2 separate regions of the Homo sapiens genome follow, and region 1 is linked to region 2. The links come from fine-mapping of genetic effects on gene expression. A gene starts in region 2. The other region holds a variant in brackets. All regions are shown on one strand. Distances are from middle to middle. Region 1 overlaps MAEA (macrophage erythroblast attacher, E3 ubiquitin ligase). Region 2 holds the start of MAEA (macrophage erythroblast attacher, E3 ubiquitin ligase).

Region 1 (14,814 bases), 44 kb after region 2:
TGAGAGATGGATTTCACAGGCATGGGTGGGTGAGTGGCCCTGAAGGCCCCTGAAGCAGTGATTTGTTTGCTGCACGTCTGTGCGAAAGCCACACGGAGCCATCAGTGTGGGCGCCTGTCGCAGGGCGGGCACAGCCTTGTTGGCGCTCCACGCCGTATGGGACAGTGTAGACTCGGTGTTTTAGATTTGGGTCTGAATACCTAAGTTTCACGACATAGACACACTTACATATTAGTGGACCAATTGAAAGTAACCTACTAGAGCAAAAGGTGTTATTGAAAAGCAGGTTTGAGGTGTCTATTGTGTGAAGCGGTAACCTAGAGTGGGCCCAGAGTCCTGCTCTTCTAGAGCACCCCCTCGGCAGCTGCGTCCTGCCTTTAGACAGAGCCCCGGCACTCGCCTGCTCTAGACACGGCAGCCATCAGGCAGCCCCTGGGAGGCAGGTGGGGCCCTGGTGGGGAGCCTCTATCTCTTCCCGCTGGCCCTTCCCTTCCTCTCCTGCCAGGCTGGCTCTGAAGGGAGCGGAGTGCTGACCGAAGTCTGCCTGCTGATTAGTGGGGTGGGGACTCGGGACCCTGGGATGACTTTGTGCCTCTCGGCTGATTTGTACCAAGCCTGGCACTCCCCACCCAGAGCCTGTGCCACTGCTGGGGTCAGAGACAGTCCTCCTGCCCCAGCTTGGAGCAAGCCTGTGAGTTCTGCGTCCAGCCTGTTGACCCGTCTGTCTAGGGACACAGGGTGATGAGGGGCTGAGGGTACAGGGCAGAGGCAGCAGGGCAGGGACCTGAGCCCCTCTGAGCCCCTGGAAGGCAGGTGGCCCCCGGGGGTCTGGGCAGCCCAGTCCTCCCCACACCCACGCGGAGCCACTGCTGTGGGTGCTATGCGTGTCGGGGCAGCAAGGCTGGCAGGCGGGGTGGGCTGGAGCACAGGTGGCTCCTCAGAAAGCTCAGTGGGGAAAGCTCTGGGAAGCGGAAGTGATGAGCTTCAACTTAAATGCAGTGGTCCGGGGTGGATTCATCTGCCACGTGGAGTTTCTGTTCATGCCGTCCTGAGAGCCAGGCCATGTGAACCCAGAGTGACACGCGGCCCCAGCCCAAGACTCGCTCCGTGGTGCCCACGCCTATATCCTGTTTCCGGGGTGAAGCCCTGAGAATGTCCTGAAACCACACGGAAGATCTTACGGTTTAGACGGACATGTCACTTCCGTAGAATCCGCGTCTCATCTTGGATGACTGCGGTCAATGTTGCCGCTGCCCCCACCCCAGCCACAAGTCTCGGCCCACGTTGGACTGAGGTTGCTGAGATTTCAGATTGAGGGTTGGGCTTCCCTTAGGTGCACGTGAGAGGCTCATAGGCAGACACATGTGGGACTTGGTCCTGCAGGAGCTTCCCCCACCCCCGCCCCTGCCTCAGGCATAGTGCCTTCAGCCAGCAGCCCCAACTCGGCCTCTCTCCGTCTTCTACACATCCTGGAAGCGCCCTCCCTTCACGCGAGCCGCCCCTTGGCCTCACAGCCACCTAGGACCTCAGTGTCCCCTGGGCCAGGCCTCCATTCCATGTGCCACCCGCCTGGGGCCTCGGCACCGGCCCCGGCTTCTGCCCGCCATGTTCTCGCCAGGTGTCTGTGCGGTCCCCCGTCCATAACCTCGGTGCAGGCGCTCCCCGCCCTACCGACCTGGGTCCTGCCTGCTGCAAGCTTGCTTCTCTGCCTCATGCCCCTGTGAGGCACCAGCCAGCAACCCCACATGTGGTCCCTGTCTCCTCCCCGCCCTGCCGACCTGGGTCCTGCCTGCTCCAAGCTTGCTTCTCTGCCTCATGCCCCTGTGAGGCACCAGCCAGCAGCCCCACATGTGGTCCCTGTCTCCTCCCCACCCGGGGCATCAGCGCCTCGGGACAGGACTTGCCCACGTTCTCCCAGAACAGCCCCGGGTTCAAGCCAGCACCCAGTCTACATTCGGGATAGTTGGGTCCAGAGGCCCGGTGGGAGTGTAGAGGAAGCAGTGGCCTCAGGGCGGGACCCAGGAAGCTGCTTTGTCCTTGCAGAGGGGTTGGTGCCTTTGCTCCAGCAGCTGCACCTGCTGCTCTGCCCTCCCAGCTGTGCTCCTGGAAGCGCCCTGAGCGCCCTGGCCTTCGGGTTGAAATGCTGGGCGGCTGCACGCCCCACCGCAGCTGCAGGAGCAGGGGGCGGGACTCACATTCAGAACCCAGTGTTCCCTGGAAAGTCTGCTGCAGGTTAAAGTGGCAGCTTCAGCCTCAGCCCTGCCTTCCCCGTGCCTGTGAGAGAGGGGTTCAGAGCTTTGGTTGTGGGGTCTGCTGGTGGACATGCGGGTGCGGCACCCGGGCACCTGGGCTCTGTGGGATGTGCTGTCTAAGCCCTCGTCTTGTCTTTGCCCTCAGAGCTGCCTGGAGTTCAGCCTCAGAATCCAGGAGTTCATTGAACTCATCCGGCAGAATAAGAGACTGGACGCTGTGAGGTAGGCATTGCGGACGTGCGTCTCCTCGAGGGAGGGCAGGATGTTCGGCTGCGGCCCCTGCCAGCCCTCCCTGTCGTGGTCTGGGTCCTGGGACGTCCCCTGGGTCGTCCCCTGGGTCTTGAGTCTGACCCCTGCCTGCTCAGGTGGCTGCTTCTCCCACTGTTCCTGAATGGGACTTGGGGAGTGAGGCCTGGAGCCTGGCAGGGCCCCCGCCAAGGTGTGGCCCCAGGTGGGCATCCAGACCCCCGTGGCTGCCAGGGGAACCAGCTTTGAGGTCCCGACCGTCCACGTAAAACACGTGGATCAGGCTCCCGGCACCCCCTTTCCACATTGGAAAGTGCCGCCAGCCTCAGTAGATGGGAGTGTCTCTGACGTGTGGTCCTCAGGTAGCTCCAAGCGTCCTGAGCTTGGGAATGTCCCTCACAGTCATCGGGGAATGTTGACAGCGTGTGATGAGGGCACTTCTGGGTTCTCCGGCCTGTCTCCGACCCAAGGGCGGCGTGCAGTGAGCTGAGGCCAGCGGCGCCCTGGTGGTCAGGCCTGAGAAGGGGATGCTGGCTGTCACTGTGGCTCAGCCCAGTTGGGGTGCACGGCGTCTGCAAAGGAAGAGAGGCTGTCCGCTGGCTTCCCGCTGGCTCCCCAGAGTGGGCATCGTCAGGCAGCAGTGGTCCCTGGCCTGGGCAGTGTCGGCCAGTTCATGCTCACCCCGTCTCGGGGCAGGGCTGCTCCTTGAGTGCTAGGTCGTCTCACTCACTTTCATGGAGGTTCCTGAGCGGCCAAGCCTTGCGGTGACGCTTGAGTTGCTGTGTGGGGTGTGTGGGCCTGGCTGGCCCTCAGCTCCCGGGCGAGTGCCCAGCAGGTGTGTTTGCCAGGAGGGGGCACCTGTCCATGCCCACAGAAACCCGACCGCGACTCCATATCCACCTGCAGTGGGCCGGGTGGCCGAGTGTTCCACAGAAGGCCCATTTGGAGAAGTGGGCGTCTCACGATGAGGTGCTGAGGGTGGTCCCCAAGACGCACGGCAGAACCGCGGCAAGTCCCTGCCCTTGCGTGGACCCTGGAGAGGCCCGGGGTCCTGCTCCGGCTCCTGATGCTGACCTGGGCGCATGGTGGCAGGTCAGGCCTCGTCTTCACGCACGAGGGAGCCAGGCCTGCAACGAGGTCCCTTCTGTGCCTGAGAGGGCTAAAGCGGGGATCTCGGGACCCGGGCCAGTGGAGAGTGGCGTGTGAGCATTGCGGGGACACGGCCAGGGGCCCCCTGTCAAGAGGAGGGGCTCCCGCTCTGCTCTGGCCTCCGTGTGGCCTCGGTGCCTGTGTCGCTGGCCTCTGTCCGGCGGCAGTCTGCTTCCATCCCGAGTCAGCCTCCGTCTCCTTGAGGGCCCCGGCCACTGTCAGCCCTGGAGTCTGAAAACAAAACGTGTCCATCCCGGAGTCCCTCCGTCACAGATGTCTTCATCTAGGTGGCAGCTGGTTCCGCATAGGGTCTGTTGACCTGTTACCCCCACTCCGCATAGGGTCTATTTGCCTGTGTTACCCTGGCTCCGTGTAGGGTCTGTTTACCTGTGTTCCCCCCGCTCCGCGTAGGGTCTCTTTGCCTGTGTTCCCCCCGCTCCGTGTAGGGTCTCTTTGCCTTGTTCCCCCTGCTCTGGGTAGAATCTGCCCTAGAGACTCGCGGGGCCTCCACCTCATAATGTCTGAGCCGAGCTCAGAGCTGTGCCCTCTGCGGCCTCGTCTGTTGCAGGGGAGCAGGCAGGTCCCAGGAAGTGCGTGTCCTTCCTCCCGCAAGCAGACACGTGCTGCCTCGAAGCCTCAGCAGCCAGCCGGGCAGGCATGGCAAACAACACCCCAGTGTCTCGGGGGCAGGCGCAGTGTGAGCTACATCCTCTGCTGGGGCCGTCTTGGGAGTGGTTCTCCAGGTGCCAGGGCCTGGTCAGGGAAGTCCGGCCTCAGCTCAGCGTGGCCCTGGAGCCACCCACAAGGCACACGGGAGCTGGGCTGGGGTGGCAGGTGGGGCATCGGCAGGACGTTTGTGGGGTGAGGGAGTGCGGGTGTTTGGCTGGGAGCCCAGAGGGTGTTGTGTATCACTCACTGAGGCTGGACAAGAGGGAAGGCGGAGAAGCCTGGCCACATGTCTCCTGAGGGCTCCAGGCAGGGCCCTCTCACCTGCTGCCAGGGTCCCAGCCCGCAGGAGCTTCCCGTCCACCTCTGAACTCACGGTCCACATGGCGCTGGAGCGTCGGGCACCATCTACAGGGCTTGAGGCCAGCAGCCTAGCCTCTGGGTCCACTGGGGCAGGCAAGGTGAGTCCTGCTGTCTGTGGAGCCAGCGTGCTGGGCCGGGCAGGGGGCCTCGTTGGCTGGGGTGGCTGCAGCTCCGCCCTGCCTGGGGCATTTGTGGGTTTTTGCGAAATGCAAAAGTATGAGCTGCTAGTGATTAACTTTTAACGCCTTTAATTTTTAGTAAATGAGTAAGTGAATCCCTGACCCCAGGCGGCTGGGACCTGGCCTGTACTTCATGGGCTTTGTGTGAGCAGCTCCGTGCCGTCTGTCGCACACCCACACCTCAGCCTGGCCAGGCACAGTTTAGGAATTTTGTCTTCTGGGTGTTTCTCTCTCTCTCTCTTTCCGTGTGTGTGTGTGTGTGTTTTGAGGTTGAGTTTTGCTCTGTTGCCTGGCACAATCTCAGCTCACCGCAACCTCCGCCTCCCGGGTTCAAGTGATTGTCCTGCCTCAGCCTCTGAGTAGCTGGGATTACAGGCGCCCACCACCACGCCCGGCTAATTTTTGTATTTTTAGTAGAGATGGGGTTTCACCATGTTGGCCAGGCTGGTCTCAAACTCCTGACCTTGTGATCCGCCCACCTTGGCCTCCCAAAGTGCTGGGATTACAGGCGTGAGCCAC[C/T]GTGCCTGGCCCGTGTGTTTATATTTTTAAAGAAAAATGGAAGTTTTTGTGTTTCTTATGTTAGCTGCATTTAGTTTGTTAAAAGTCACGGTTTTGTTTCCCCTGTGTCCTGTGGATGCATACCGTGCTGTTCTCCCCGGACCTGCTCTGAGGGCCCCACATCTCGGCTGCAGTTCTCTGTGTGTTGGGGCTGAATGCTGGCATCAAACGATCTGAAAAGAGTCAGCCGCCACTGTTAGGTTTTCTGTTTCTGTCTTGGGGTCAGGATTTGTGGATCAGGGACCTGGGGTGCGAGGTGAGGCAGCTTGTTAGGCGGATGATGTCTGTCTGGGGTTTGATTGATGGTGAGATAAGACGCGTAAACCAGGTCATGCAAATGAGATCTTGTAGATGTCAACCACGGAGATTAAATTTCCTCTCTTCAGCAGCTCTGGGAGGAGGTGAGATGCCCGTTGGCCGTGTTCTGTGCACGTCTTGGCGTGTGACGAAGGGTGACTTGTCTCCAGAGATGGAATGAGGGGGTTGGGTGGGGCTCCTCCTGGACTCAGACCCACGCCCACCCACACGCTCCAAGGAGGGGGATGCATGGGCACTGGAATCTCGGATGGCCGTCCCCAGCCCCTGCACACGCACCCTGCGGGGTCAGCCGTGTGGACTCACCCCCGACTCCCAGTCCCTGTATGCACCCTGCGGGGTCGGCCGTGTGGATTCACCCCCGACTCCCAGGCCCTGCACAGGCCCTGGGGCGTCAGCCATGTGGACTCCCCAGGCTGGGTCCCAAGCGTGGACGCCCCCCACTCCCTGCTGCCCCGGGCTCTCCTGGTGGTGCTTCCAACACGTGGTCCCCGTGCTATCCATCAAGGGGCTGCTGGGCCACCTCCTACACTAACTCCAGTCTCTGCGAGACACTGCATCTTCTCCAAGGCCACCGTGAGCGCCTGGCACCTCCTCAGCCCTGTGTTCCTTGGTACATGCCTTGTTCTGGACAGCACAGGGCTGACTCACACATGGGACTTGAGGCCCCTGGTTCTGTGCATTGGGGTCGCTTTGGCAGAGGGGCCCTGAGGGCTGAGAACGTGGGGTGCACAGGGGCCCGTGTGAGGGTCAGGACATGGGGGTGCAGGCCCTCAGGACAGCCAGAGGGACAGTGACCCTGTGTGTGGGGGGGGGCATGAGAATGGGGGCCCTGGGGGTGAGCAGGTGCCCGCTGGTCAGCTTGAAAGGGATCTGTTATGTTCTGCTTTGGTTTCTTGGTTGCCCAGCCTTAGACTGGAGTGGGGTTCTGGCCTGGAGTAGGCCTGTGTGCATCCCGCAGAGTTGGCTCAGGAAAGATCGTGGCTGCATGTGGTGTGTGGCACGCTCAGGGCTGAGAGGGCTGGGCCGGATCTGCAGGGAGTCCAGCCTGTGGGCTGAGGGAGGCTGTTCTTCGGAAGGTTGTGCTGGGCGTCACTGCCAAACAGCAAGGACTGCAGTTGAGAAGACTACACGTTCTTGGTCCGCTGGGGCCACGGGGTCCGTGGGGGCGAGCATCTGGGGAGAGTGGGAATCCTCAGGGTTTGGGTTCCTTGTAAACCAGAATCGCTTTGGAGAGCCCTCGGGGGCAGGTGCCATTTGCAGTTCTGGTGTTTTCCGTGGGTTGTCTGTGTGGCTTGGGTGCCCTGGTCCCCTGGAGGAAGGAGTGTCTGGTAGCTGCTCCTCCAGCCTCTGGTGAGCCGCACCTCCCGCCATCCCAGCCCCACCCAGCAGGTCGGCTTGGAGTGAGGCGATTACTTTGTACCTAGACTCTGACATAAAAGCTGTTAGCTCAGATTTTTCAACTTAAAAATGCAGGCCGGGTGCAGCGGCTCATGCCTATAATCCCAGCACTTTGGGAGGCCGGGGCAGGAAGATGGCTTGAGCCCAGGAGTTGGAGACCAGCCTGGGCAACACAGCGAGAATCTGTCTCTAACAAGATGTTTTTTACATTAGCTAGGTGTGGTGCTGCACATCTGCGGTCTCAGCTTCTCGGGAAGATCGCCTGAGCCTGAGAGTTCGAGGCTACAGTGAGCTGTGACTGTGCCACTGCACTGCAGCCTGGGTGACAGAGTGAAACCCTGTCTCTAAAAGTTAAAATTAAAACGCAAACTTAAATGTGCCAAAATGTTGTTTTTTAGACATGCAAGAAAGCACTTCAGCCAAGCAGAAGGGAGCCAGCTGGACGAGGTGCGCCAGGCCATGGGCATGCTGGCCTTCCCGCCCGACACGCACATCTCCCCGTACAAGGTAGGGCGTGCGTCCCTGGGGTCGGTGTCATGCTGGGGTGGGGATCCAGGGTGTGTCTCTGGTCTGTAGCTGCTTCCACACGTGGGGCGGGACGTGAGGGCCCCATCCCAGCCACACAGCCTGTCCAGCCTGCCAAGACAAGCTTTTCTTGTTTGACTCCCATTTTGCTCATAAGAAATTTGAATCAGGGCTGTGTGTGGTGGCTCACCCCTGGAATCCCAGCACTTTGGGAGGCTGAGGTGGGAGGACTGCTTGAGCCCAGGGGTTTGAGAACAGCCTGGGGAACATAGTGAGACCCCACCTCTACAAAAAAAATTTTTTTGAAAATTAGCTGGGCATAGTAGCACCTGCCTATAGTCCAGCTACCCAGGAGGCTGAGGTGGGAGGATCACTTGAGCCCATAAGGTTGAGGCTGCAGTGAGCCAAGATTGTGCCACTGCACTCCAGCTGGGGTGACAGAGCAGGACCTTGTCTCCAAAAAAAAAAAAAGCAGTTGAGAAAGGTTCAGGAAGCCTTTCAGCCTGGAGCGTTCAGCCGGGGCCCAGCTTCCTTGCCTGTCCCCCTGGTTCTCCTTTCTCTACAGCCCCTGAGTCAGGAGTTAGGCTGCACCGTCTTCCGTGGTTCTTTCTCTTGCTGACGCTTTGTATTTTATCTGTAAATATTGGAGCCTCCGACTCTCCGCGGTCACTGGGGTAGGGTTGGGGGTTCTGCCATCACTAACCAGGCACCCTGTGCTCAGACCTGGCCCCAACCCAGCAGCTGGCTGCTCCTGGGTGAGTGGCTCCACTCTGCACCCGTGCCCACCCCTGCACCCACCCCATGCCCACCGTGTGCTCACCCCCTTGCCCACCCCCATGCCCGTGCTCACCTCTGCACCCACCCCATGCCCACCCCCATGCCCACCTGTGCTCACCCCCATGCCCACTCCCGTGCCCATGTGCCCACCCCTGCACCCACCCCATGCCCACCGTGTGCTCACCCCCCTGCCCACCCCCATGCCCGTGCTCACCTCTGCACCCACCCCATGCCCACCCCCATGCCCACCTGTGCTCACCCCCATGCCCACTCCCGTGCCCATGTGCCCACCCCTGCACCCACCCCCATGCCCGTGTGCTCACCCCTGCACCCATCCCATGCCTACCGTGCTCACCCCCATGCCCACCCCATGCCCACCATGTGCTCACCCCTGCACCCACCCCCATGCCCGTGTGCTCACCCCTGCACCCATCCCATGCCTACCGTGCTCACCCCCATGCCCACCCCATGCCCACCATGTGCTCACCCCTGCATCCACCCCCATGCCCACCCCTGTGCTCATCACACTGGGAACAGTTTCAGTTCCTGGAAAAGGGGGAAGCAGATAAAACCTCCTGGAGTTGACAGTTTGTTCTCTGAGCCTGGCACCAGTCTCTGTCAGAGGCCGGGGTGTTTCCCGGCAGCCCCCACCTGCCACCCTGTAGGGACTGCAAAGCCCTGGGCAGTCCCAGACCTGCTGCCTTCTGAAAGCTGCTGGAAGCTCAGCCTGAATTCTCCTGGTTCTCAGGCGTTTGGGGCATCTCATAATAAATCATCATTAGGTCACGAGGATCTTCAGGGGTGGGGTCTGAGCTTCCCAGACTGTGAGTTGGCACCTTGTTTCTCTCGCTTGCTCTGGAGAGGATTTTGTTAGAAATGCAGGAAAGGCTGACCCATACAGGGGGCTGAGACTTCGGGCCTAGGCCGGGTGGAGCATGCACCTCTCACCGGACGCAGCCCTGCAGTGTGGTAAAGAGGGAGGCAGGCAGTGCCAGCCCCAAGGCTCATCTGTTGCCAGATTCAGGGGGCACAACCGTGTCTCGTGGCAGGAAAATGGGCCCCGTTGCCATGGGTCAGGCAAGAAACAGAAGGAAGCATTTTGTTCAGAGAATGGCAGAAGCCACCAGAAGCCCAGAGGCAACCAGTCCTGGGGAGTGAGGATGCCAGGAGCTGTTCTTCTCAGTGAGGACCTTCTGGACTGTGGGCTTCCTCCCTTGTAGACTTTGATTTTTAGACAAAAATGAGATTTAAAACAGCCTTTAAAAATGTTGGAGTTAAGTGTGGTGTTTACCCTAAACTGAGACTGAGAAGCTTACAGAGACTGATGGGTGACGTCCCCTGATGACCACCTCCCCTCCCTCCAGGTGTGGCCGTCTCCCCCCAAGCTAGAGACTGAGCGGCCTTTCTGGGTTGATGTGAAGGTTTTTCTCTCCTGTGCTCACACACGCTCTCTCTCTTAAGTCTAAACCTGAGGTTATTTAGGGACAGACATTCATCAGGTTTAATTTTCTGTTCTGTGATGCTTTAACCTAACATGGACCGGTTGTTTTCCATTTCATACATGATTTCTCTGAAGTAAGAGTTTTTACACCTAATGCTCTGAGGTGCACTCTGCACTGAGCTGTCCTTCCAGCTGTGTGAGTCTATTTTTTGTCACAGTGCACAGGTTGCACACATTCCAGATCATTCAAGTTGATTCACAAGTGAGTGTAGCAGAGTTAAGTCAGCACCAGCCCTGTGGCATGTTGAAATCAGAGTTAAGTCAGCACTGGCCCCACAGTGTGTTGAAATCAGAGTTAAGTCAGCACTGGCCCCACAGTGTGTTGAAATCACAGAGTTAAGTCAGCACTGGCCCCATGGCGTGTTGAAACCACAGAGTTAAGTCAGCACTGGCCCCACAGTGTGTTGAAATCACAGAGTTAAGTCAGCACTGGCCCCATGGCGTGTTGAAACCACAGAGTTAAGTCAGCTCTGGCCCCCACAGTGTGTTGAAATCACAGAGTTAAGTCAGCACTGGCCCCATGGCGTGTTGAAACCACAGAGTTAAGTCAGCACTGGCCCCACAGTGTGTTGAAATCACAGAGTTAAGTCAACACCTGCCCTGCAGTGTGTTGAAATCACAGAGTTAAGTCAGCACCTGCCCTGCAGTGTGTTGAAATCACAGAGTTAAGTCAGCACCTGCCCTGCAGTGTGTTGAAATCAGAGTTAAGTCAGCACCTGCCCTGCAGTGTGTTGAAATCACAGAGTTAAGTCAGCACCTGCCCTGCAGTGTGTTGAAATCACAGAGTTAAGTCAGCACCTGCCCTGCAGTGTGTTGAAATCAGAGTTAAGTCAGCACCTGCCCTGCAGTGTGTTGAAATCACAGAGTTAAGTCAGCACCTGCCCTGCAGTGTGTTGAAATCACAGAGTTAAGTCAGCACCTGCCCTGCAGTGTGTTGAAATCAGAGTTAAGTCAGCACTCATCCCGCAGCATGTTGAAATCAGGGAGTTAGATCAGCACTGGCCTTGCAGCATGTTGAAATCAGAGAGTTCCAGCACTCGTCCCGCAGAGTGTTGAAATCAGAGTTAAGTCAGCCCTTGTCCTGCAGGTGTTGAAATCAGAGCGTTAAGTCAGCACTGGCCTCACAGCGTGTTGAAATCAGAGACTTAAGTCAGAACTGGCCCCACAGTATTTTGAAATCAGAGAAGTCAGCACTCCCCCGACAGTGTGTTGAAATCAGAGTTAAGTCAGCACTCACCCCACAGCATGTTGAAATCGGAGTTAAGTCAGCACTCACCCCACAGCATGTTAAAATCAGAGTTAAGTCAGCACTCATCCCACAGTGTGTTGAAATCAGAGTTAAGTCAGCACTTGTCCCGCAGCATGTTGAAATCAGAGTTAAGTTCATACTGGCCTCGCAGTGTGTTGAAATCAGAGAGTTAAGTCAGCACTGACCCTGTAGCATGTTGAAATCAGAGTTAAGTCAGCACTCATCCCGCAGCATGTTGAAATCATAGTTAAGTCAGCACTCATCCCACTGTGTGTATCAGTCAACACTTGAGGGAGTTATGCTTTGTGCTGACCCTTAGTGCAAAGTGTGTGGGTCACTGGGGGATGGCTGTGGGCCGATGGCACCTGCTTCACCATGGTCCACGTTTTTAAGCTGTCCCAGGAGCTTCCCTGGGAGCATCCCCAGGACCCTCTGCTCTCTGTCTTCCAGGACCTTCTGGACCCTGCACGGTGGCGGATGCTGATCCAGCAGTTCCGGTACGACAACTACCGACTACACCAGCTGGGAAACAATTCTGTGTTCACCCTCACCCTGCAGGCTGGCCTCTCAGCCATCAAGACACCGTATCCTACCTCCCGTGCGCAGTGCGGTTTGGCCTGGGGTTGGCATCTTTGGTCATATTTTAACACGCTGACCCTGCACCTTGCCACTCTTGTCCTCCCACCACAGACAGCCCCGAGCTCCCGTGTGCTGCACTTGCGTGGTGTCTGGATGGTCGGGGTGGGGCCGTGTTGAGGGGCCTCGGATGCGTCGTGCAGCCTTCACTCTGGGAAGTGGCGCGCTTCCTCTCTCATCATCTCAGAGGCCGCCATGGGCATTGATCTAAAAGCCCGATTTTGATGTGTTCTGGCAGCCGGCAGATTACCATTCAGAATAGTTTTCCCGTGTGATTACCAAGAACCTTGCCTGTGACTGACTCTGTCCCGCCTGTGACTGACTCTGTCCCACCTGTGACCGACTCTGTCTGCCTGTGACTCTGTCCCTGCCTGTGACTGACTCCATCCTGCCTGTGACTCTGTCCCACCTGCGACTCACTGAGTTCCTGCCTGTGACTCACTCGGCTCCCGCCTGCAACGGACTTGGTCCCTGCCTGCGACTCACTGTGGCCCTGCCTGTGACTGAGTCTGTCCCGTTTGTGACTGATTCCTTCCTGTGACTGACTCTGTCCCACCTGCAACTGACTTCTTCCTGCCTGTGACAGACTCTGCCCCTGCCTGCGACTGAGTCTGTCCCTTCCTGCAACTGAGTCCATCCCGCCTGTGACTCTGTCCTCGCCTGTGACTGACTCTGCCCCTGCCCTGTGACTGTCTCACCTGTGACTGACTCCGTCCTGCCTGTGACTCAGCCTCTTACTGACTCTACCCCTGCCTGTGACTGACTCTGCCCTCTCCTGTGACTGACTCTGTCCCCACCTGTGACTGACTCTGTCCCCACCTGTGACTGACTGTCCTCCTGCAACTGACTCTGTCCCCGCCTATGAATGTCTTTCATGTGACCTGCCTCAGGCCCAGAGGGCAGTGAGTGTTTCGCGATTGCTGCTGGTACCTGGCTGTGCCGGGGTATGAATGAGACTCAGGCCCCCTCCCTTGTCCCCTCTTTGTGGAACTCTGGGCGAGAGGGCTGGCGTGCTTGCCCACTGCCTGTTCCTAGGTGCCAGCAGAACGTCCCTGCTGGGTGGCTCTTGTCCTGCCTGGAGAGGTTGCGTGGCCGGGGAGAGGGCGGCGGGCGACGGAGCCACTCTGTGCCTGTGGTCCTGGTGCTGGAGGCCGGGGTGAGAAGGCGCAGGCTTCTTGTCTCCACCGAGGCCTCAGTGGGGCTGTTTAGCTGTCGAGTGCAGCACTTCCTGTGCCTCGAAAGACAGCCCCGTGTAGTCAGCATGGCGCCCACATAGCCAGAAGGGCACGCAGCCCAGGGCAGAGTGGCCACAGGGGGCTGGGCTCACCCCGGCTGCCCTGAGTGGCCCCCAACCCTTCCTTGACCCGATGCTCAGACAGTGCTACAAGGAGGACGGCAGCTCCAAGAGCCCTGACTGCCCTGTGTGCAGCCGCTCCCTGAACAAGCTGGCGCAGCCCCTGCCCATGGCCCACTGTGCCAACTCCCGCCTGGTCTGCAAGATTTCTGGCGACGTGATGAACGAGAACAATCCGCCCATGATGCTGCCCAACGGCTACGTCTACGGCTACAATGTGAGGGGGGCAGGGCAGGGGGGCCAGGCTGGCACGCATCGCCATCGGGACAGGGCTGTGTGGGACGGGCAGGGCAGGGGGGCCAGGCTGGCACGCATCGCCATCGGGACAGGGCTGTGTGGGACGGGCAGGGCGGGGGGCCAGGCTGGCACGCGTCGCCATCGGGACAGGGCTGTGTGGGGCGGGCAGGGCAGCGGGGCCAGGCTGGCACACGTCGCCATTGGGACAGGGCTGTCCTCTCGCCCCACCCTGCCTTAGCTTCGTTCGAAATGGATGAAGGGGTGGGAAGGACAGGCGAGGTGGCCCCGGGATTTCTTTGGCAGGTGTGCCTTCGGGAAGGAACTTTGCCTGAGAGGATGAGTCATTCCCTGGTGGTTCATTGTGGGGATTTTCCATGGAAATCCGTGTGTACGTTGTAGTCGCTTGCCTTAATGCATTCCCGGTTTTATTTTTCAGTCTCTGCTTTCTATCCGTCAAGATGATAAAGTCGTGTGCCCGAGAACCAAAGAAGTCTTCCACTTCTCACAAGCCGAGAAGGTGTACATCATGTAGGCCCCACGTCGTGAAGCGCACGCCTCGGGGACGGGCTGCAGTGGGCGGGGAGGCCACGCCTTCCTCCTGTCCCACGCTCCAGCCTGCCGCGGCGTTTCTGTTTCTTGCGACCAAAGATCCGTGAGCAACGATAAATACTCTTAGGAAGAGAGAAAATAAGGTTTCATAAGTTTGTACTTGAAAACATTTGGATTGGTAGGATTTTGTAACACGTCAACCATTTGATGCTTCTGAAAAGTACTTTCAACTTGCGAAGGAAACTCTTCTTTAAAGACTGACCTAAACACCGAGGGAAACTTAAGAACGTTTAAAATATAGGAGTCCGTGATTTCCCTGTGTTTTCAGTTTCTTTCCTTCTGTGAACGATGAGACTTGGAGAACGGGCTGGTCCTTCACCACTTCCTGTTGGCCCTGGCCTGGCCGGGGAAGGTGGCAGCGGCACCGGACTGACCTGCAGTGACCCGCGATGCCGCGCCACGAGGGACACTTATGGCTTCATTCGAGAGCTGCTGCCAAAACGCCTGGCGCCGCCACCGTCGGGGGCTGGCTTCGAGGACGCCCGCCTGCCTCGCGGGTCGTGTCCGCGGGACTGTGTTCGTACGTGCATAGTTTCGATATCACATCGCGGGGCTGTGTTCGTAGCTGCGTCGTTTCGATATCACACCCTCTGTGTGCCGCCTTACTTCCTGCTTCGAGAATGTATAACGTGGAAATCCACGGGACCAAATTTCTGCAGAGGCCTTGCCGGATGGTTCCATAACTGTAGAGTCTAATTGCTATCCATTACAGAAATTAATCGTTCAGTTGAAAGAAGTACTGATGACTTTTCAAAACAAATGAACCACCGTAGCTGACAGAGAACCGTATCGTAGAG
Region 2 (14,814 bases):
CTCGTGAGTTTGGTGACGCAGAGTTCGAACTAAAGCACTTACGTTTGCATTTAAAACTGGCGTCAGACAAATGATGGTGAACACTATGATTTGCTTATGTTTGCACTTAAAACTGGCGTTGGACAGGCTGGGTGCGGTGGCTCGCGCCTGTAATCCCAGCACTTTGGGAGGCTGAGGCGGGCGGATCACAAGGTCAGGAGATCAAGACCATCCTGGCTAACACGGGTGAAACCCCCTCTCTACTAAAAATACAAAAATTAGCCGGGCATAGTTGGCGGGCGCCTGTAGTCCCAGCTACTCAGGAGGCTGAGGCAGAAGAATCGCCTGAACCCAGGAGGTGGAGGGTGCAGTGAGCCACGATTGCACCATTGCACTCCAGCCTGGGTGACAGAGCAAGACTCCGTCTCAAAAATAATAATAATAAATAAAAATAAAAATAAAAAATAAAACTAGCGTTAGGTGACGATGAACACTACAATTCGTGTGAATAACTGCTTATTTTTCTTTACTTAGAATGACATTAAATGATGAATTTTAAAAATGCCATGATGTGGGCCAGGCGCGGTGACTCACGCCTGTAATCCCAGCACTTTGGGAGGCTGAGGTGGGTGGATCACACGGTCAAGAGATTGAGACCATCCTGACCAACATGGTGAAACCCCATCTCTACTAAAAACAAAACAAAACAAAAAAACAAAAATTAGCCGGGTGTGGTGGTGGGCGCCTGTAATCCCAGCTACTCGGGAGGCTGAGGCAGGAGAATCACTTGAATCCGGGAGGCAGAGGTTGCCGTGAGCCGAGAGCACGCCACTGCACTCCAGCCTGGCGACAGAGTGAGACTCCAACTCAAAAAATAAATAAATAAGATAAAATAAAATAAAATAAATGCCATGATGCAGAGGCTGCAGTGAGCTGAGATTGTGCCACTGCACTCCAGCCTGGGCGACAGAGCAAGACTCCATCTCAAAAAAAACCCAAAAAAACCCACTATGATGGAAACAGTCAACAGAGGGTGGAGACGACCTGTTGAATGGGAGAAAATATTTGCAAACTATTCATCCAACAGGGGACTAAAATCCAGAGTATACAAGGAACTCAAGCAACAATAAAAAAAAAAATCCCACTAGAAAGTGGCCTGAGGGCACTTTTAGCCCCCAAAATAGAAATGTCTATTTTGGGAATAAACATATCTCAAAAGAAGACAGACAAACAGCCAACAGGTGTATGAAACAATGCTCAGCACCTCTAAGCATCGGGGAAGGGCAAGTCACCACCACGACGAGACGTCATCTTACCCCAGTTACACGGGCTCTTATTAGAGAGACAAAAAATAACAGATGCTGCTGAAGATGCTGAGGAAAGGGAGCTCTCACACACGGTGGGTGGGCGTGTACATTAGTGACGGCCGTACCGGTTAACAGTGAGAACGGTGGGTGGGCGTGTATTTTAGTGACGGCTGTACCGGTTAACAGTGGGAACGGTGGGTGGGCGTGTACATTAGTGATGGCCGTACAGGTTAACAGTGAGAATGGTGGGTGGGCGTGTACATTAGTGATGGCTGTACTGGTTAACTGTGGGAACGGTGGGTGGGTGTGTACAGTAGTGATGGCTGTACTGGTTAACCGTGGGAACAGCGGGTGGGCGTGTACATTAGTGACGGCCGTACCGGTTAACAGAACGGTGGTCGTGTACATTAGTGACGGCTGTACTGGTTAACTGTGGGAATGGTGGGTGGACATGTACAGTAGTGACGGCTGTACCAGTTAACAGAACGGTGGGCATGTACATTAGTGACAGCTGTACCGGTTAACAGTGAGAACAGTGAGTGTGTACATTAGTGACGGCTGTACCGGTTAACCGTGGGAACGGTGGGTGGGTGTGTACAGTAGTGACGGCTAACCGTGGGAATGGGTGGGCGTGTACATTAGTGACAGCTGTACCGGTTAACAGTGAGAACAGTGAGTGTGTACATTAGTGACGGCTGTACTGGTTAACCGTGGGAATGGTGGGTGGGTGTGTACAGTAGTGACGGCTAACCGTGGGAATGGGTGGGCGTGTACATTAGTGACAGCTGTACCGGTTAACAGTGAGAACAGTGAGTGTGTACATTAGTGACGGCTGTACCGGTTAACTGTGGGAACGGTGGGTGGGTGTGTACAGTAGTGATGGCTGTACTGGTTAACCGTGGGAACAGTGGGTGGGCGTGTACATTAGTGACGGTCGTACTGGTTAACAGAACGGTGGGCATGTACATTAGTGACAGCTGTACTGGTTAACTGTGGGAATGGTGGGTGGACATGTACAGTAGTGACGGCTGTACCGGTTAACAGAACGGTGGGCATGTACATTAGTGACAGCTGTACCGGTTAACAGTGAGAACGGTGAGTGTGTACATTAGTGACGGCTGTACCGGTTAACCGTGGGAACGGTGGGTGGGTGTGTACAATAGTGATGGCTGTACTGGTTAACCGTGGGAACGGTGGGTGGGCGTGTACATTAGTGATGGCTGTACCGGTTAACAGTGGGAAGTCCCTCCACCAACAGTGGAATTTCTCAAAAAACTAAAAGTAGAACTACCATCCAGCAATTCCACTACTGGGTATTTATCCAGAGGAAAAGATGCTTGGCCCAACCGAAGCTACCTCAAGCACTCACCTTGGCTGGGCCCCACCTGGGAGCAGGGAGGCCACCGTCCAGCACTGGCAGGTGTCCGGCCTCCTCCTCCAGGGAGCCGGGAGGCCTTTACTGGAGACATTTACAAACAGATGTTGTGAAGATAACAATTGTGTGGCTTGAGTCGATTCCACCTCTACAGCTAACCATAGGAACTAATTATAGTTTGTATTACTAAATACTTTTAAGGGAAAATCAGATGCTATTTTCTTACCAACAAAACAGTCAGTGCTCAAGCCCAGGAGTTTGAGACCAGCCTGGGCAACATGGTGAAACTCTGTCTCTGCAAAAAAACTTTAAAAATTAGCTAGGCATGATGGCATATGCCTGTAGTCCCAGCTACTCAGGAGGCTGAAGTGAGAGGATCGGTTGAGCCCGGGAGGTAGAGCCTGTAGTGAGCTGTGATCGTGCCACTGCACTACAGCCTGAGTGACAGAGCAAGACTCTGTCTCAATAAATAAATAAATAAATAAAAACCAACAGAACAGTGAACTGTGTAAAATCTTGTTACCTGATGTGAGGTACATGTTTCATTCATTCAAGAATTAAGTTTTTCAGCAGGTGTTAACCACCTCCTAAGAGATGTGTGGATCAAAATAACGACAGGGGCAACTCCAGCGCAGAAAACGGATCTGGCTGGGTGAGAGGAAGGGCTGTGTCGTGCAGCTTGGGGCAGAGTCACCCCCTCGAACTTGAGGGGGTTACCTTTAAGTAGCAGAGCCCTGACGTCCGTCCATCAGTGGAGATAAGAAGGGCCCCAGGATGTGGACCCCCTGCAGCATGTGATGTGAGCTGGCTATGACAGTGCGTCCCTGAGCCACAGGTCAGGTCCTCCCACACGGCCATGCAGGAGGCACCCAGCACCATCCGTCTCTGGGCTGCTTTTCTCTGCGTGCTCCTGGCCCACCCACACAAGGGAACCACGTGTGCCCCACAGCTCATCCCTGGCATAGCTGATTAGTCCAGATGGACAGCCAACCCACACTGGGCAAGACTTTGGAGCCTAAGATTTTGGAAGTTTGAACCAAGAGACGCAGAACATGGCAGCTGTTGAATGCTATACTACGACAAAAAGTATATTTGGTCTTGGTCCCTGGTTCCGGTCACCAAGTGTCTAAAACCCTTGCGATTTCCTGAGTGTGGGAGCGTCTTCTTTCTTCATAAGGAACTCCTTCCCACCACACCTGAGTTTATGTTAATGAAGTGACTCTGGGTGGGGCCTCCAGATATCACTAGAAAGACCCGGAGATTGGTTGGCAGGAATTCTCAGCCCCTCTCCCACTCCACCTCCACCTCTGGGGATGAGGGGGGCTGGGGATTGAGATATGAAAATGTGTGAATAATGAGATTCAGGAGAGCCTCCTGGCTGGTGGATGCCCCGAAGTGCTGAGCGGCTGCCGCGCAGAGAAGGCTTGGGAGCTCCTCGCCCCACCATGCCCGATGCACTCCCGTTAGCTATTCCTGAGCTGTGTCCTTCATAATAAGCTGGGAAGCATTAAGTGTTTCCTGAGCTCTGTGAGTCATTCTAGCAAATTATTGAACCTGAGGAAGGGTTTGTGGGAGCCCCAAATGTGTCATCTGCCTTGTGGGTGGCCTGGGCACCCCATGTGCAGCCGTCACCTGGAGTGGGGACAGCCTTGTGGAACGGAGCCCTTGGCCTGTGGGGTCTGTGCTAACTCTGCGAGTGAGTGTGAATGGGGTTGGATTGTAGGATAGCCAGTTGGTGGCAGAGTCTGACAGCTGGACAATTTCAAGTTATATAAACCAAAAATAAGATACTAAGCTCCCCCAACTGACTGAATGGAACCCCCTACCCCCACCTTCAGCCAAGGGGGTTTCAAAGAAACCTGAAAAATCAGTTCAGGACACGATGGCGGCGCATGACTTTTCTTGGTCACTTGTCAGCCAGAGACCCCCAGCCAGCGACACCCTTGCTCAGGCCCAGGTTTGCCACAGGAGATGCCCATTCACTTGGCCCATCATGTCATGCCAGGCCCGCACTCCAGCGTTTGCGGCTGTTCCGACTGTGCACTCAGCCCCCAGTGGGAGGGGGTGTGAGCGAGTGAGTGCGGGGTCCAGCCAACGGTTCCAAGTGTCAGCACAGACGCAGGCTCCATGCAGGGCTTGTGGCTGGACCAGGCATGTTGCAAGCCACTCCCATGGTGGACTCCGGCGTCCAGACAAGGGGAACACGGTGGCGCCCAGGTAGGGGTGCTGTGATCCTGAAGCCCCAGAGGGGGTGTTACAGCATGCTAATTAGCTCTTTTAGTCTGCATCCTGATGGACAGTGGTGCGTCAACAGCTCTGTCAGCCGCTTGCCCCGCATCAGCCCATGGCTCCAGGGCTGGCTCAGTCCCACTGCTGCTTCTGTCACATGGGGTGGCTGCCCTCTGCTGGTGAAGGGCAAAGGGTTATGGAGTTACAGCCTTCTCTGTATTCACATTTGGTGCATCCTGAGCTCTTGTCCCACGTCCAAGAAGAATGATGATACACTGACAATTGAAGGGTGAGGAGGATGGAGAAGAATTTTATTGAGTGACAAAGCAGCTCTCAGTGGAGCAGGGATGTGAGGGTGGTCCCCCACCTGAAGTCGGATGGTTTCTCTCTCCATGTGGCTGGGTTTGGGGCTTTCATGGGCTCAGAGTGCACACTGATTGGTTTGTGAGGATGCAAAAATGGCTAAAACAAAGGCATCACTCAAAGGTGGGGACAACAGTGTAAAAAGCAATTAGGGGCTGGGTGCGGTGGCTCACGCCTGTAATCCTAGCACTTTGGGAGGCTGAGGTGGGTGGATCACAAGGTCAGGAGATTGACACCATCCTGGCTAACACGGTGAAACCCCATCTCTACTAAAAATACAAAAAAAATTAGCTGGGCGTGGTGGCGGGTGCCTGTAGTCCCAGCTACTCGGGAGGCTGAGGCAGGAGAATGGCGTGAACCTGGGAGGCAGAGCTTGCAGTAAGCCGAGATCGTGCCACTGCACTCCAGCCTGGGAGACAGAGCGAGACTCCATCTCAAAAAAAAAAAAAACCAAAAAAACAACCAACCAACAAACAAAAAGCCAATTAGGGAAGGATAGGTATATGTAAAATAGGTGAAGGGTGGGGACCAATCAGAGGAAAGCATGCCAGGCAGGAAGACAGGTTCCCAATCTAGTCCATGGATTTACCTGGGACTTGTAGGTCGGCTTTAAACTGTCTTCGGCTTGAAGGTCGGGTTTCACTGGGTAACTGCTCGGTCTGCCTCCTGCCACTATTAACGTGAAGGGAGAGTTGGACATGCCTCAGTATCCCCTCCTCCCTTTCGAGTTCAGGCACAAAACTTACCAGCATTAACATTAAAACAGAGATCTTAAGACTGACAAAACAGACTCTGTAGCAATAAGATGCCAAATTCCAACTTGACTCTAGTAGAGCATCACATGACAGATAGCTGGCCTTGAAGGAAATCAAAGTGTTTTACCCCAAAATATATTTCTTTGACATATTTTGAAAGGGCCCTGCAAAGCTGTCTCTTGTGGGAGAAATTTACATTCTGTAGGGAATCCCTTGCCCTTCCTTTCCGGGTCTTTTCTGATTCTGAAGAAGTTAATGGTTAACTGAGAGTCTAGCAGCTCTTGTTTTTTTTTTTTTTTTTTTTTTTTTTTAGGAGTCTCGCTGTGTCACCCAGGCTGGAGTGCAGTGGTGTGATCTTGGCTTACTGCAACCTCTGCCTCCCAGGTTCAAGTGATTCTCCTGCCTCAGCCTCCCAAGTACCTGGGACTACAGGTGAGTGCCACCACATCCAGCTAATTTTTGTATTTTTAGTAGAGACAGGGTTTTACCATGTTGGCCAGGATAGTCTTGATCTCTGACCTCGTGATCCGCCCGCCTCGGCCTCCCAAAGTGCTGGGATTACAGGCGTGAGCCACAGCACCCGGCCAAGTCTAGCAGCTTTTTAAGATCTAGATATGAAACATTTGCCATCTATTGCTTCTAATGGTGGCCACCTATGAGGCTTCATCTATGTAATAAGAACGTTGGTCTCCACAACCCCTTTTAACCCAGATGCTCCTTTCTCTCGATTCCAGATCTTTAGATAAGCACTCTTTCAACCAAATGCCAATCAGAAAATCTTTGAATCCACCTGTGAGCTGGAAGCCCCGCTGTGCTTTGTGTTGTCCTGCCTTTTCGGACCAATGTAAATCTCACATGTACTGATTGATGCCTACATCTCCTTAAAACGTATAAAATCAAGCTGTAACCCAACCACCTTGGGCATGTGTTCTGAGGACCTCTTGAGGCTGTGTCACTGGTCATGATCCTTAACCTTGGCAACATAAACTTCTAAACTGATTGAGATCTGTCTCAGACACTTTTTGGTTTACAAAAGGACTAATTCAAATACAGTTTTATCTTCCAACATAAGAAAACCTAGAATGAATGACTCAAAGGTTGTAGAGGGTTAAACAACCTCTCCAACGTGCAAACCTCTGCCTTATAATTCCTAAGTATTTCTGACTGTAGATGGTACTAGGATAGGATCATTTTACCATGGAAATGAAACCCGTGTCCTTTCCTTTGGGTTAATCTTGAATCCCTGGTGAAGTGAAGGCAGTCTCTAAGAGGAGTGCAGTCCATCCAACTGCTGCAGTGCTCCTGTGTACTACTGGGACCATCCCGGAGAGTGGCAGACACGATGCGAACCGTGAAAGGACGCAAAGAGTACAGAGTGCATGCTTCCATCTCTATAGGAAGGTCAGGAACGCTGTTACGGGGAGCAGGGTTAGAATGATGGGGATATAGCCCGGGAAGGGGCAGAGGAGCTTTCTGTGCCACGGGAAATGTCCTAAATCTCAACCAGGACACGGTTAGATAAAAGTGCAAATATGGGTGAAAATTCATTAAAGCTGTATAGTTAAGATTTGTGCACCTCACTGTAAAACTTACTTCAAATGTCTAAAAGACTGGAGTCTGCAGCCACACACTTGAGGAATAACACTTTCCTTAGTCCCAACTCCTGTTTAAGTAAGACAGAGAAAGATTCCACAGTGCGGGTCGGATGTCTTGCGGCTGTAACATGTAGCAGCCTCCAAGCGGAGGTTCTCCCTTCATCGCTGTGTCACCTTAGATGTTTTTCCTTTGTTTAAACACCAAATATTTTAAAAGTTGTTTAGAAATGTGTTATGTGAAACACAAGGTGGTTTAATTGGGACGTCATTTCCTAATTAATAAAATCTAATTTCAGTTTTATTTTGGAAAGGAGGGAGACGGGTGGTGTTTGAAAGGCTGAGAATGTGAAGTGGCTGAAATGAAGGCAGCGCACGACCTGGATGCCAGCGCTGCCCGCCCTGCAAGGAGAGGGCGGAGAGGCCACACGCTTCTCATGCTTCGGGAGTTTCTGTCCATAAATCAGTTTTAGGTACTGGGCCTTTCCTCTTCCGTTGGGAAGTCGGAGGTTCCACATCAGGATTCCAGCAGCTGTAAATCGGTCAAAATAAGGCCAAAGAAAAATAGCTGGCTACAGGCGCATGCGGCCAGGCGTTTTGTTGGCGTTGCCCTTGGTACCGCAGGCACGAGGGACCCACAGGGGACCACCCCGCGGGAGCCCCAAGTAACTGGACGGACGCCAAGTCCCCCAGCCCGCTCGGCCCCAGCTCCACCCGCCCGGGCCGCAGCCCGCACCCCATCGGCCCGCCCCGGGCCAGGAGCATCCCCAGCTCCGGCGTCTGCGGCCTGAACCCGGTAGCGAATTCAAGGTGGAAACCGCCAGCCGGGGCTATCGTTGATTGGCTGAACGAGAGGAAACCCGGCAGTGATTGGTTCGCGCCTTCTTCCGCCTCCGGCCGACTGGGCGGATACGATTGGTGCAGGGGCATCGGCCCGCCCCCATCCTGCTCCGGCCGGCGCGTGGCGTCATTTCCCGGCGTGCAGCGCGCTCGCGCGTCCCCCGCCCGCTAATGTTTTGGCCGCTTCAAGATGGCGGTGCAGGAGTCGGCGGCTCAGTTGTCCATGACCCTGAAGGTCCAGGAGTACCCGACCCTCAAGGTGGGCGCCTGCGCCGCGCAGGCTGAGGGCAGCGAAGGCGTCTCCAGCCAGTGCCCTCGGGCCGCGAGGGGCCGCCCCGGGAGGGCCAGCGGCGAGGGCGGCGGGAGCTGGGCGCGGCCTCGCGGGGCCGTGCGGGCTTCTCAGGGGCGCCCGGTCCGCGCCGGGCAGGTGTGGCGGGGGCGGCGGCTTTGGCCCTGCCAGGCGCCCGACTGTGGCCCCTCTGCTTGAAGAGCTGCGTGAGCCGAGCCAGCGACGACTCTGGCAGCGCTAAGGGTGGCGAATTTGGGGCTGGGGTGGAAGCCGGAGTTTGCGGGGCGTGGGGTCTCTGGCGCCCAGGCAGACGGAGTGCGCGGCGTGCCCAGCCAGTGCCCGGCCGCCCTCCCGGGAGCCCAGGGCTGGGAGGTGCCGGCTGCGCCGGTCGCTAGTTAGGAACTGTAGGGAGAAACCTCACGGCCTGATGGCACCCAGCGACCTTTTTGATGGGCGTCACCAAACCTGAAATACAGCTCTTGCCGTCCGGCTGCCGGTTGCGTGACCTTGGGTGGTCACCTAGCCACGTCGCACTTCTTAGAATGAAATTTGTGCTCCTAGTAGAAGGAGCCGATACTTGTTCTTTACCTAGTTAGTAGAGGATTTGATATGAAGCACCTGGGAAGGAATTCCTTAAAAGATCAAGGTCATAGCTTTCCTAGAGCTGCGGCTGAGCTTCGTGGTTCTGTGTTGCCTTCCTGGAGAGCTGCGTAGTTTCTCTCTCCTCCCAGAGCGCCCTGGTGTTCACGTCCGTCTGAGGACGGACGGTGTGGCGACAGGTGTGGAGGATGCAGTATGGCCAGGTTGCTGTGCGTTCCCCCAGCCCCAGGGCAGTTCAGCGAAGGGCTGAAGAGCACAGGCTGTGAGCCATCCTGCTGGGGTGTGAATCAGGCTTCTCTGTATTCGTCCTTACTGGGAGACATCAGGGCCCGGTTGGTGACTGTTTATTCTTGTCAGGTTTAAGCAGTGGTAGCGCCTGTGTCACCTCAGGGTGAAATGAGTGACCACGTATTGTTTCAAACAGTGCCTAGCATTCATTAAAAGGTCCCTGCTACAGTTAGCGCTGCTGAAGTCAGGCTGTACCCTGCTGTAGCTGGTCTTCATAGGAAAGCAGAAGCAAGCTTCTCCTCCTCTTTATTAACTAGCGGTTTATTTCATATTTTTAAAAAGAAACGGGGTTTCACTGTTGCCTAGGGTGGTTTTGGATTCCAGGACTTAAGCGATCCTCCTGCCTTTTGACCTCCCAAAGCGCTGGGCTGACAGGTGTGAGCCACGCGCCCGCCACACTAATGGTTTCGCAGTGGGGTTTCATGGTGCTTGTGTGTCCAGCACTTCTTTTGATCAAGGAAGGGAGGGCAATGTTGCTGACGTTACCAAAGGTCTAGCCTCTTGCTAGATCCCTCCAAGATGTAGGTGGTTGGTTTTTAATACTCAGTGACATTGGTGGATCTCTGTTGGTTTAGAGATGGAGACCCTGCAGCTGAGAGAAGTCTATACAAGGACATTGTGGTGATATTAGTAGGGAGTCCTAACCACTGACCACTTTGTCTCACGCAGTGCACCTCCAGGCCTGTCATTTCAGCTAACACACAAGAAGGTTTGAAGATCAGAACCGTGGTGGTTTGTCACTTCTGGTACTGGCTGGTGAATGTGGGAAACACTAGATAGGAAAAGTTTCCAGAAATCCTTTCATTGTGTATTGAAGGAACTAGGAAGGGAGATGGAAGGTCTCCGGAAAGGATTCTTCTTCAGGTCTTCTGCTGTTTTGTAATCGTGAATGTAATTTGTATTCCAGAGTGATTGCATAGCTTCTGATTAAAATAGTCATGCAGATAGTCATACAGGTAAAGAAATATTATAGTGTCATAATTTCTCTGTTGACACTTGTGTCACTACTGAGTTAAAACTTTTTTTCATAGAAGTTTTCAGGAGTGATTCCTAGTGGATAATGGAGGTGTTTTGCTGGGAAACTAGGGATCCTTGATTTAGAAGCATTTATTGGTATAGAACTAAACAGAACATGCTGAGCTCACAGCTCAAGAGCTGCACTCTTCAGTTTCCAGGAGGGGCCAGTGCAGATGTCAGAGAAGGGACCGAGGGCTGCAGGACCGGGGTTGTGGAAGGTGGGGGGTGGATGTTCTGCTTCTCTAGTCTGAGAGCAAGTCCTCCTGCAGGGTGGTAGCAGCTGGCATGCTCTGGACTGGATCTTCACCTGGTAATAGTTAAACTGCTTTCCTGCCATGTGAGTCCTCCACAGACTCACAGGGGATTCCTTTCTCTTCAGAGGGCTTGGTAGCCCTAGGTGGGTTTCAGCAGTAACACTTGGGATGTCTGCTTCCTCACAGCGTCAGGGCGGCTGGTGGGGCTCCTGGGTGCCTGGCAGGTACTTATTTTTCTATTTTCCTGGTGAAGTGGGAAGAGAATGGAACAGACGTGAATTGCTGCAGCCAACACGCACTGACCTTGGGCACCTCTGTCGTCATGAGCTTCTATTTCCACCAAAGGGGTGGACCGGCCTGCGAACGTTTGGGCTGGAGGAGCCTTTGTCGGTGGTGGGGGCTGTGCAGTCTAGGATGTCTAGCAGCATCCCTGGTGTCTGCCTGCCAGATGCCAAGAGCATGCCCCCAAAATGTCTTCAGACATTGCTAGATGTGCCCTGGGGGCATGCACACACCCCTGAGAATTGCTGGGCTGGATCCTGCTTTAAGGGACTTGTTTCTTCCTCTTACCAAACGGAGGTGTGGCTCATGAGGACTCAGCCTTGCGTCCTGGCTGTGGCTGTGTCTTTTTGCTGTCAAATGCTGTGAACGCCGTCCGGTGTAGGGTGGTGGGTAATGCCTTGTGGGGGAGGGGAAAGATGAATAACTCACCATCTTTTTTTTTTTTTTTTTTCTTTTTTGAGACGGAGTCTCACTCTGTTGCCCAGGCTGGAGCGCGGTGGCACAATCTCAGCTCACTGCAACCTCTGCCTCCCAGATTCAAGCAATTCTCCTACCTCAGCCTCCCGAGTAGCTGAGATTACAGGCACCCGCCACCATGCCCAGCTAATTTTTTGTATTTTTTAGTAGAGACGTGGTTTCTCCATGTTGTCCAGCTGGTCTTGAACTCCTGACCTCAGGAATTCACCATCTTTCAATTCAACATGCATAGTTCACCATCTTGAATTGGAAGCCCTTGCTTTCATTATTTTGTAAAAGGTTTTTTTTTTTCTGATTATAAAAGTAATTTGATGAGTTGGGTGCGGTGGTGTGCGCCTGTAGTCCCAGCTAATTGGGAGGCTGAGGCGAGAGGATCACTTGAGCCAGGAGATCCAGGCTGTGGTGAACCGAGATTGCACCACTGCCCTCCAGCCTGGGTGACAGAGTGAGACCCTGTCTCAAATAATAAATAAATAAAAGTAATTTGTTTTTTCTTCAAGTTACCCTGCTGCACAGAGAGAACTTCATTAACATTTTGGTGTATTTACTCCTACTATTTCCCTTCAGATAGCCGAAGAAAAATAATAGTTTAGAGAATTTCACATGGGTGTCTGCACAGCCCAGGGCGGGAAGTGGTGTTCATCACCTGGAGACCCTGGTCTGGACCTGGCTCCTCTCTGTGAACCCCACCTGGGCCCACCTCTCCTCTCCTGGAGCCCCAGCAAGGGTTCCCAGCTCCAGTGAGTCCTCTCACACCCAAGGTGGTGATGCTGTCCTCTCCCCAGAGGACAGGCTGAGAAACACCGGGCTTGTGGTTGCATTCTCAGGTGTCTGAATTCTCTACAGGAAGATTTGCATGTTCTGCCTTTGGTTTGATGACAGTCTGGTTGCCCAGGCATGGCCCTGATGCCTCACAGCCTGGGTCTGTGCCTGTGGTAGGGAGTTCGGGTGCCAGCTGTGTGCTGAAGTTGTAACTGCTCCTGCGCCTTTTGTAGTTTTCTTCACTCCATCTTGGCTGGATTTGGGAGGATCATGTGTTCTCGAGTGTGAGAAACACAGGCAACCACGAAGCGTTTGACTTACTGACACACACATTGGGTTGGACCCTGGTGATGCCGTGTCTGAGGAGTCTTAGGCCGGGTCTCCACCTCTTCTGTGGCCGGCTTTTTCGATGTACTTTATCTGCAGTAACGTCACAGCCCTCCAGAATCCGCCCGGTCTCTAGAGCACAGTGGAAATTCCTTCTGCCCAGAAGAGCCATGGTCTGCCCTTTGTGGCTCCCAGCTCCACTCCCCTCGCCTCTCCCACCGTTTGCTGGTGGTTTGGCCCTGGGCTGGCTTCCGCGGCCTCCGCGCTGGCACAGGTCTTCCCTCCCAGGCCTGGGCCTTTCCAGCTGGTTGGGCAAGGCTGAGATAAGGATGTAGACTTGAATTCACTGCTAGCTGGGGGGTTGGTTTTGTTTTTGTTTTTTTAAGTATTATTTTTTTAACACATTTCAAGTCAAGAAAGTGCTTTTTAATGCCTGATTCACCGTAATGGCTGGGCTAGGTTGGAGGCAGTACTGACGTGAGGCCTGGAGCGGCCCTGGGACCTAAGCAAGGCACCGCCGCCGGGCTGCAGAGCAGGGCTGCAGGTGCACTTAGCTTCTCCCATACCCCCCTCCGCAGCAGTGGTCTGAGAGCCTCCATCGGCCAGGTACGGTCAGGCCCTGCACAGTCAGGCCCTGGGCTAGCATGATGGGGAGACAAGTGAGGCCCCTGTCTACGCTCCGGTGGGAGGGAGGCATCAGCACAAGCACACACAGACATCTCAGATCCTTTAAAGACGCTGATGAGGTTGAGGTGATGTTGGACAGTGGCAGGGGACGGGGGTGGGGCCGGGGGCAGGGGCAGGGGCAGGGGCGGGGGTGGGGATGAGCTTCCTCCAGTGAATGCGATATTGTGAGCTGGTTGGCGGAGCTAAGTTTTGGGGTGAGGCTCTGTGGACCGTGTTGAAGTCCTGGCCGGCTCTCACCCCAGTAGGCACACAGGCACACAGCACCATTGGGGTGATGTGGCTGGGGGTGTCCCAGAGCTGTGCAGGGAGGGTCTCACAGTGAGACTGGGTGCTGGGCAGTGACTCGGTCTGTGGGTACAGGGGTCAGCAGAATGGGAAGCAAGCCCAAGGAGACACATTGGCACCAGAATGAAGACAAGGCCGGCCGGTGCCTGTAGCATGTGACTGCCCCGTCTGCAGAGAGGCTGTGCTGCGAGCCCCACCCTCTGGGGGCTTCAGGCCGAGTGGGGATGTCTGGGTGCTGACCCAGGCATCGCAAAGCACACTTCCTGCCGGGGTAACTGCTGATGATTTTTAGGTCTGTTATTTCAGAATCGTTATAGCTAGGGGCCATTATTTTGAAAACCTGAACAAAAAGAATTATTCACTGTGTTAATACCACATTTAGTGACTGTTGAGCTGAATGTGGCTGAGCAGAAGAAAGCACCTGCTGTGCTGATGGCTGACTGTGGACCCGGACCGGGACCCTGAGTGCTGCCCCACTCGAGGGAGGGGCCCAGAGCAGCCTCCTTCCTCTCCTCCCAGGCGAGCCTTTCATACCTGTCCTTCTCTCAGACTTTCCCTCCTACTTCATGCTCGCCCATGCCTGTCACGCAGACCCTGCCTGACCTGCACCTGCTCCCACACCCGTGGTGGATGAGCCCCATCACCCGTACCTGTACCCCCCTCACCCGCTCCTGTACCCCCTCACCCGCTCCTATACCCCCTCACCCACACCTGTACCCCCCTCACCCGCTCCTGTACCCCCTCACCCGCGCCTGTGCCCCCTCACCCGTGCCTCTGCCCCCCTCACCCGCGCCTGTGCCCCCCTCCCCAGCGCCTGTGCCCCCTCACCCACGCCTGTGCCCTCCTCACCCATGCCGGTGCCCACCACACCTGCGCCTTTGCCCCTTCACCTGTGTCTGCACCGCCCTCACCTGTGCTGCCTTCACCTGCACCCCCTCACCCACACCTGTGCCACCCTCGCCCGCACCTGTGCCCCCCTCACCCACGTCTGCACTGCCCTCACCTGTGCTGCCCTCACCTGTGCCCCCCACCTGTGCCTGTGCCCCCCTCACCTGCTCCTCCCTCACCTGCTCCTCCCTCACCTGCTCCTGCACCACCTTCACGTG

What was found. PIP is the estimated chance that this variant, and not a neighbour inherited with it, causes the effect.
Region 1: its variant is fine-mapped to the expression of MAEA in whole blood (TOPMed, PIP above 0.99).

The regions. Positions count from the first base shown.
Region 1 is chr4:1,325,230-1,340,043 of GRCh38, forward strand. MAEA (macrophage erythroblast attacher, E3 ubiquitin ligase) reads left to right here. Exons shown (of 9, transcript NM_001017405.3): 5 at 2,398-2,474; 6 at 7,528-7,636; 7 at 11,632-11,765; 8 at 13,193-13,388; 9 at 13,845-14,814. The coding sequence ends at 13,940. Among named protein-coding and RNA genes, the nearest start is that of UVSSA, 15 kb to the right of the region's middle. RefSeq lists enhancers at 645-1,844, 13,953-14,471. The variant C/T (reference allele first, on the strand shown) is at 5,375.
Region 2 is chr4:1,281,284-1,296,097 of GRCh38, forward strand. MAEA (macrophage erythroblast attacher, E3 ubiquitin ligase) reads left to right here and starts at 8,608. Exons shown (of 9, transcript NM_001017405.3): 1 at 8,608-8,699. The coding sequence starts at 8,631. LOC105374347 (a long non-coding RNA gene) reads right to left here and starts at 8,288. Exons shown (of 3, transcript XR_925046.3): 1 at 7,602-8,288; 2 at 5,843-5,925; 3 at 5,081-5,165. It overlaps LOC105374346 (a long non-coding RNA gene), which reads left to right and starts at 6,320. Exons shown (of 2, transcript XR_925043.3): 1 at 6,320-6,440; 2 at 6,743-7,011. RefSeq lists silencers at 8,129-8,538, 8,639-8,918, 10,007-10,189 and an enhancer at 13,535-14,498.